Linked DNA regions of Homo sapiens. The protein of the gene in region 1 interacts with the protein of each later gene in a pairwise test. Each region holds a gene or a part of one and is shown in the gene's direction. Other genes may lie near its edges.

What was found.
Region 2: the proteins of TMEM207 (region 1) and MGST2 interact in binary tests that used the Homo sapiens proteins (3 or more experiments, as listed by UniProt).

Annotation. Positions count from the first base shown.
Region 1 is NC_000003.12:190,443,059-190,446,980, reverse strand, and holds part of TMEM207 (transmembrane protein 207 precursor), read left to right. Parts: intron 1-3,922.
Region 2 is NC_000004.12:139,664,086-139,668,007, forward strand, and holds the start of MGST2 (microsomal glutathione S-transferase 2), read left to right. Parts: upstream 1-1,733; 5' UTR 1,734-1,934; coding exon 1,935-1,992; intron 1,993-3,922. UniProt on the Homo sapiens protein: Catalyzes several different glutathione-dependent reactions. Catalyzes the glutathione-dependent reduction of lipid hydroperoxides, such as 5-HPETE.

The DNA of each region.
Region 1 (3,922 bases):
AGCTTTTGCATGGCTCTCGATTGCTATTTCTTTACGTTAATTTTGGAACTGCTTTTTCACTCTGTCTTATGCTGTTTGTGATGTAACAGAGTATTTGATTGTTTGCATGCTTATCTGACTCAGGATTTCCTGGCTGCCCTTATCTTATCTCCTCATCTTCTGCCTTTGACCCAGACTAACAAAATAAAGAAGTTCAGAATTGGAAAGGATCTTAAATGTTGAATCTAACTCTAATCAACGTGACAGAAACATACGGTATTAAGAAAGTTTTTATGCTGACTTTAGCGGTAGCTGAGGCTACCGCTCTCCCTTTTAGGTGAAGGGATTGAAACCTAAGAGAAATAGTAAATGAGTAGTAGGGCTTCAACTGGTACTTAGGCATCACATTCTCTGGCTACATCATTTTGCAACTAAGTGTCTGTAATGGTTATCATTATTCAATACAATTGCTTTTGAGTAAAAACAAAAAAAAATTAACCCTCAAATGAAATGTAAATTGGCAGAAAATAAACACAAAAAAGAGAGTGGCTGGGAATGTAGGGTGGTCATATAAGGTAAGTAAATGTATTGAAGACGTGCACAATATCTCAAATCTTTTGTTATCGCAAGACAGTGTCAGCGGAATGAATCTGTAAGGAAAGTCATGCTGTTTTCTGAGGGAGTAAAAAGTCCCCTCCAAGAAAAATCCTCTTTCTCTAACTATATTTATACAAGAGATTTCAGTTTCAAATCACTTCTTTGATCTGAGACATTATCTCCTGATAAAATACACTACCCAGCCAAGAGACCATATTCATCCATTTACCAGCACTGCTATAAGAGAGTAACACACAAACATGGCAGATTACAGTGAAAAGGACCGTAAAGATGGCCTACTCCAAATGTCTTTTAAAAAATGAGAAACACAAAAGGACAGTAGCTTGTCCAAAGTTCACATGCAAAATGGACACAGAAAAGGGAGACTTGGATTGGAATGCAAGGGAGCATCAAAGTAAAAACATGAAACATGGATCGCCTAGGTAGAGGCCATGGTGGAGGAGGTGCTGATTAGCTAGAAATAAAAACATATGTATTAATCAACTTCTATGTTCCAAGAATTGTGCGAAACAATTTGCATATATTTTCCATTAAAACAAACAAACAAACAAAACTGGTCGACCGGGCGCAGTGGCTAACCCTGTAATCCTAGCACTTTGGGATGCCAAAGTGGGTGGATCACCTGAGGTGGGGAGTTCGAGACCAGCCTGGCCAACATGGTGAAACCCCATCTCTACTGAAAATACAAAAATTAGCCGGGCATGGTGGCACGCACCTGTAATCCCAGCTACTCAAGAGGCTGAGGCAGGAGTATCGCTTGAACCTGGGAGGTGGCGGTTGCAGTGAGCCGAGATCGCACCACTGCACTCCAGCCTGGGTAACAGAGCGAGACTCCGTCTCAAATAACAACAACACTGGTCTATTTTATTATTCCCTATTTAAATTTGTTTTCAACACCAGGGTACGTTTTTCTGATCCAATCCAATTATTTTACTTTTCTAACTGTATTTTTAACATGAACAAAGCTTTGCTGTGCTGTCTTTGTATAAAATTTAAATGCTATAAGTAATTTATTTTATGAAATAAAGCATGACAGAGCCCCTCTTATCATACTTCTGACTTAGTCCTCTTCTGATAAATAGCCAAGGACACTGATGTGCATGAATGAACAAAAATAGATTGATTTATGAAATATAAATATGACTATACATATAAAAGATTCTGTAAATTAATTGCATTGATAGATTTTCTAATGATATACCACATCTTGCTTGGCTTGATAAAGTGAAATATCTTACTCAAGAGTAGGAAAGCAAGTTAAAAGGCAGAGCTTGGACTTGGACCTGGGACAGACTCCTGAGCCCAGAATTTCAACCACAAAGTTATATTGTATATCCAACATTTAATCAATTATACATCTGGTGAAATACCTGAGATATGCATAGTCCATTCATTCTTTGAGATACTATACAATTTACTACCAGTTTCTGGGTAATATGATTTGTGACTCATCCATCCCTCAAATTACTGTAGCTGAATTGCACTTTGGCCTATGTTGAGGAATGACTTTTTAAAAATAAAAAAAAATTCATGCAATTTGTTACTGAATTTATTCTGAGAATACTATGGAAAACATTGTTCTTATGTTAACAGTGTTCTCTTTATGAGGCCTCATAGCTTGAATTTTTCTCTGGTTTCGATGCCAGGAATAGTTGTACATCTGGTGAGTAATGCTGTTCATTTTGTTAATTTTAGAGGACACTATATAACCAATATTCTCTCTCATTATGCTAGCTGCTAGGAAGCTTAAGTCAGATCTACAGTTCAATTCAAATTTTATATACGGTATTTACTATATTCGGTTTACAAACTGATCTCACTATTGGCCTATTCTCTGTCTGATCCTCACCAGGCTCTCATTTCTATTTTTTTTTTTTTTAATTTTCAGTATTTCCTTAAAGCATTTGGAACACGGGATACTGGATTCATTCAGGCAATACTCCACATGGTACTATGAGGTTAGAGCTGGCTATTACTGTCCCAGTCGCACCACGACATGGTGATAAGAGACATGAACTCTGCAGACAGAGCATTTGGGTTGAAAACCTACTTCTACCACTTCCAGCTATGCTAACTTGCGCAAGTTACTTAATGGCTCTGTGACTGAGTTCTCTCAGTTGTAAAAGGAGAATTATAATAGTATGACCCTACTGTATAGTGGTGTAAGTTTGAGAGTCCGTTATTTCACATGAAGTTACGCATCTGGTTTTAGAAGAGTGTCTGCCCTAGAAAATGCTGAGTGATGTAACAGAGAAACCAATGAAGCAACTCTGCATATTTCTTCCTGAATTTATCAAATTCATAAATGTGTAATCTAAGGTCCACAGATTCTCAGCACAGAGAAGAAGAATAAAGATCAACTCATCTAACCATTCGTATTGCACAGAAATCATCTCCATGACATCAAAGTAACAAAAGGAAATCGTTCTGATAAGGACAGAAATTATCTCCCTCAACAATTAATTCTAGATAATTCTTATTCCAAATGTCTTTCTTACGCATTATAGTCAGCTCTCACTTCCCCCCGATGATTTTCTTTTTACCATAATCATACCAATTTGACCAATCCCTGAGGAATAATTTCATTTTCAAAAATATAACCTTTCCTATACTGAATATCTTGGAAGTAATATTTGAGTAATTAGAATACTCTTACTTTTTTAGGAACTCAAAAAGTTTCTGTTTACAACTTGAATTTAAGAGAGAAATGGAAATAATGATTCGAGGAGGGGAGCATATGGAGCCAAAAGACACATGTTCCAGTGTAGTTCTCTGACTACGTAGTGAATTCCCCTCTTCCTCTCTCCACCTTAAGTCTCAGTGGTACACTGTGCAAAATCCTAAAGGTCAATAAATGATCTCAAAGATGCCTGCGATTTGGAGCTTACATGATTACTGCACTTCTCCAGCTAACTGCTTCCTAGCCATGTTATTTCTTATCAGAAACTCCACCAGAGGGTGCACCAGCTCAGAAAAAAAAGTGAAATAAAGTTGGTTTGGAAAATTGTTAGCCCAGGAAGAAAAAAAAATAGAGGGCCTTAAAAATTAGATTTAAGAAACACAATGAGGTGGTTAATATTTAGAATTGAGTTTAACGATAAGTAAAGGGGCTATTTTCAAACAGAAAAAAAGTAAAGGAAGAGGAGGAAGATGAAATAATCCATACTCCTGACCATGAGCTTAGATGTCACAATTCAAAAAAGAAAAACAAAACAAAACAAAACAAAAAAAAAAAAAAGCTTTTTTAATTGTGTCAGGACACCAAGAGAATTTCCCCACATCTGTCTCTTAAAAAATGTATATTTTTAAGGTTTTAATTTTTTAA
Region 2 (3,922 bases), on another chromosome or scaffold:
ACAGAACACATTTGTATATGCCAGGTGCTGTTTTAAGTGCTCTATAAGTATTAACTAATTCAATCCTTAGAATAGGATTATGTCATTTAAACTTCTCTTCAGCTCTTATTAGCCCTATCTTATTAAATGGAGGCTCAGAGAGGCCCAAGGTTGTGTTATTAAATTGTAGGGTCTGTGTGAGGCTGAGGCAACTGCCCTCCCCAGAAGACACTGGGAGCTCCCTGCTAGGGACTAAATGTTTGTGTCCCCTCTGCAATTCATATGTTGAGACCCTAACCCCCAACGTGATGTTATCAGGCATTTGGCAGATAATTAGCTACAGGTGAGGTTATGAGCATAGGCCCCCATAATGGGATCTGTGCCCTTATAAGAAGTGACCAGGAAGCTTACTCTTTCTCTGTCTCCAACATGAAGGTGTCCTTCTGCAAACCAGGAAGAGGGCCCTCACCAGGAACTGATTGGCCAGCACTGTCATCTTGGACTTCCCAGCCTTCAGGACTGTGACGAATAAATTGCTATTGTAAGCCACCCAGTCTATGGTATCTTTGTTATAGCAGCTTGAGCCAAGATATACCCTCTAATGGTGCTGTAGGATGGGGTGAGGAAAGGCCCCCAGCTCTGGTTTTTGGGAAGCTGCATCTTTATTTTTATTATTTGTTTGAGACAGGGTCTCACTTTGTCACCCAGGCTGAAGTGCAGTGGAACGACCTTGGCTCACTGCAGTCTCAGGCTCCTGGGTTCAAGCAATCCCCTTGCCTCAGCCCCCTAAGTAGCTGGGACTACAGGCACGTGCCACCATGCCCTGCTAATTTTTGTATTTCTTTAAGAGATGGGGTTTTGCCATGTTACCCAGGCTGGTCTCGAACTCCTGAGCTCAAACCATCTGCCCATTTCAGCCTCCCAAACTGTTGGGATTACAGGCATGAGCCATCCTTCCAGGCCAGAATCTGCATCTCTAAAGAGCAGATTCTCCTGCCTCAGCCTCCTGCGTAGCTGGGACTACAGGTTCGTGCCACCATGCCCAGCTGATTTTTTGTATTTTTAGTAGAGAAGGGGTTTTACTGTGTTAGCCAGGATAGTCTTGATCTCCTGACCTCGTGATTCACCCTCCTTGGCCTCTTAAAGTGCTGGGATTACAAGTGTGAGCCATCGCGCCCGGCCGGTTTATTTTTTTAAAAATGGCTGGGCACAGTGACTTGTGGCTGTAGTTCTAGCTACTTGGGAGGCTGAGGCAGGAGGATTACTTAAGCCCAAGAGTTGGAGGCTGCAGTGAGCTATGATCGTGCCACCACACACTCCAGCCTGGGTGACAGATCAAGACCCTGTCTTAAAAAAAAAAAGTATGATTATTATCAGAGTCTCTAGGTGACAGTGAGAGGCAGCCTGGTGCAGGGGATAGGGCACAGTTGTAATCTGCTAGACTGGGTTCAAATCCTAAATCGGCCATTCAGAGCGTGAATACATTAGAACTGGCTTAAATTAGCATTTAAAATGTCAACAGGATTAAGTAAGTAGTTCCTTCTCACTTTTTCCACAGGAGGTGAGAAAGGTCTCAGCAAGGCCCTAGGAGGGAAGGGCGTGGGGATGAAAGGGATCCAGAGAGTCTGTGCATTGGCAGAGAAGATAGTGTAACTGGCACTGCGGCTGGAGGGCTGGTCCCACAGTGAGCTACAGCCCTGCCCGCTGGCCGTGGGAGAGGCTTAAAACAAACGCCGGAAGCAACTCCCAGCCCCATAAAGATCTGTGACCGGCAGCCCCAGACCTGCCTGCCTTCCTGACTTCTGTTCCAGAGCAAAGGTCATTCAGCCGCTTGAATCAGCCTTTTCCCCCCACCCGGTCCCCAACTTTGTTTACCCGATAAGGAAGGTCAGCATTCAAAGTCAAGAAGCGCCATTTATCTTCCCGTGCGCTCTACAAATAGTTCCGTGAGAAAGATGGCCGGGAACTCGATCCTGCTGGCTGCTGTCTCTATTCTCTCGGCCTGTCAGCAAAGTAAGAGGCATGGGAAGTTCGTGTGTGTGCGCGTGTGTGCGTGTGTGTGTGTGTGTGACAAGGCTTGCGGGAGAGAGAGGGAGGGAGGGAGATGGGTCCGGTGTTTTGTTTCCTACTTGCCCTTGCAGGTAGCTCTGGGTCCTCAGAGCACAGTCGCCTCAGGGTCACCCATGCCGCCTGCTACCCTCCTTCCCAGGGGCAAGCAGAGACTGAGAACATTCCAGAGATTAGTTCTCCCAACTGGAACGCTGTGGGGCCTCAGAGCTCAGCGATTCTGCATCATCTGTGATTACGACCCACAGCCCGTTCAAACGAGCGTTAGTAGCCTGCTAACCTGCAGGAAGTGGTGTGAATATTAATTACAAGTGTTCCAAAGGAAACGTGCCTGCTTCTAAACCTGGTTGTGATTTCTTGAACGTTGATGTTTTAATTAATGTGTTTTCTTAAATAAACTGCCTATGGTGGTATGATTATCAGATTGAAAAAAACTTCCTTCAGAAATATTAGCTTTAGATTAAGTAATTAGCTCTAAATTTTAAAACAGCTTCCCACTAGGATTATTCAATATCTCGACTGCCTGGTTAAATAGAGGGCTTTTACTCCATGGGAGTCACATTTGCTCAATTCATATTATCTTACCTACAATGTCAGCTGGGGAAAGGGGTCCGAGTGCAAGAGTGCAAGACTTCTTACCAAGCATGCATATTTCTTTATATTTCCAAGTATGCCTGTACCAGGAAATAGGGCCAAGCCGTAGACTGCTCAGGTTACACAAACAGCCAGAAGCAGGAAGGCCTCACAGCTGAGGATCCAGTCCAGGCCTCCGTGCATGCTCAATGTCTTGCCTAGCCAGTCTGTTTTGAGATTGTATGAAGATCTTGAACCTTCAGACTCACGTTTTGTGGTTTGATTCACACAATCTGTTGTGGAGAAGAGCAGGATATTTGTTTCTAATTAAAGAAGCACTTAGATCTGTTAAAAGGAAAACCCTAGACAAATTACATTTAACTGAGTTTAATTGAGCAAAGAACGATTCACAGTTGGGCATGGGGAACCGGAATAGGTTCAGAGAGACTCTGGGGCTGCCACGTGGTAGAAGAAGATTTATGGACAGAAAAAGGAAAGCGACTCCCAGAAAACGGAAGCATATAGTTCACGATGTACGGAGAAACCTTTAGGCTGAACTTAAAATATGTCAGAAGGCAGCTTTAGGCTAAACCTAATTTAGCAGGTCTAAGGCTCACTGTTGGTAGCATCCTGACTCACAGGTGCTACCAAACCTGCATGCGCCTTTATCCTAGGCCTGCAGGTCCACAGATGTCCCAAAGCTGACAGAGGTGCTCATCCTCCCTGTTTGCTGCTTGTGCAGGGGGCTGTGTGAACTGGGGCCAGAATGTTAGGGGGCTGGATGGAGTGGGGGTAGGGGTGGGGAGAGAGGAGAGGAGACTGGGTGAATGATGATTAATGGTGGACAGGGAATGTTTAATGACAAGGTGTTAGGGCCGGGCACGGTGGCTCACCCCTGTAATCCGAGTACTTTGGGAGGCCAAGGCAGGTGGATCACGAGGTCAAGAGATCGAGACCATCCTGGCCAACATGGTGAAACTCCGTCTCTACTTAAAATACACAAATTTGCTGGACATGGTGGCACGCTCCTGTAGTCCCAGCTACTAGGGAGGCTGAGGCAGGAGAATCGCTTGAACCTGGGAGGGGGAGGTTGCAGTGGACTGAGATCACAGCACTACACTCCAGCCTGGCAACAGAGCGAGACTCCATCTCAAAGAAAAAAAAAAGATGTTGATGAAGAGTTGAACTTTGTAAAATAATTGAAAAGCTGTATTCTGAGCCAAACATGAGGGACGAGTGGCCGGTGACACAGCCCAAGGAGATTCTAAGAACATCTGCCCAAAGGGGTCTGGCTACAGATTGG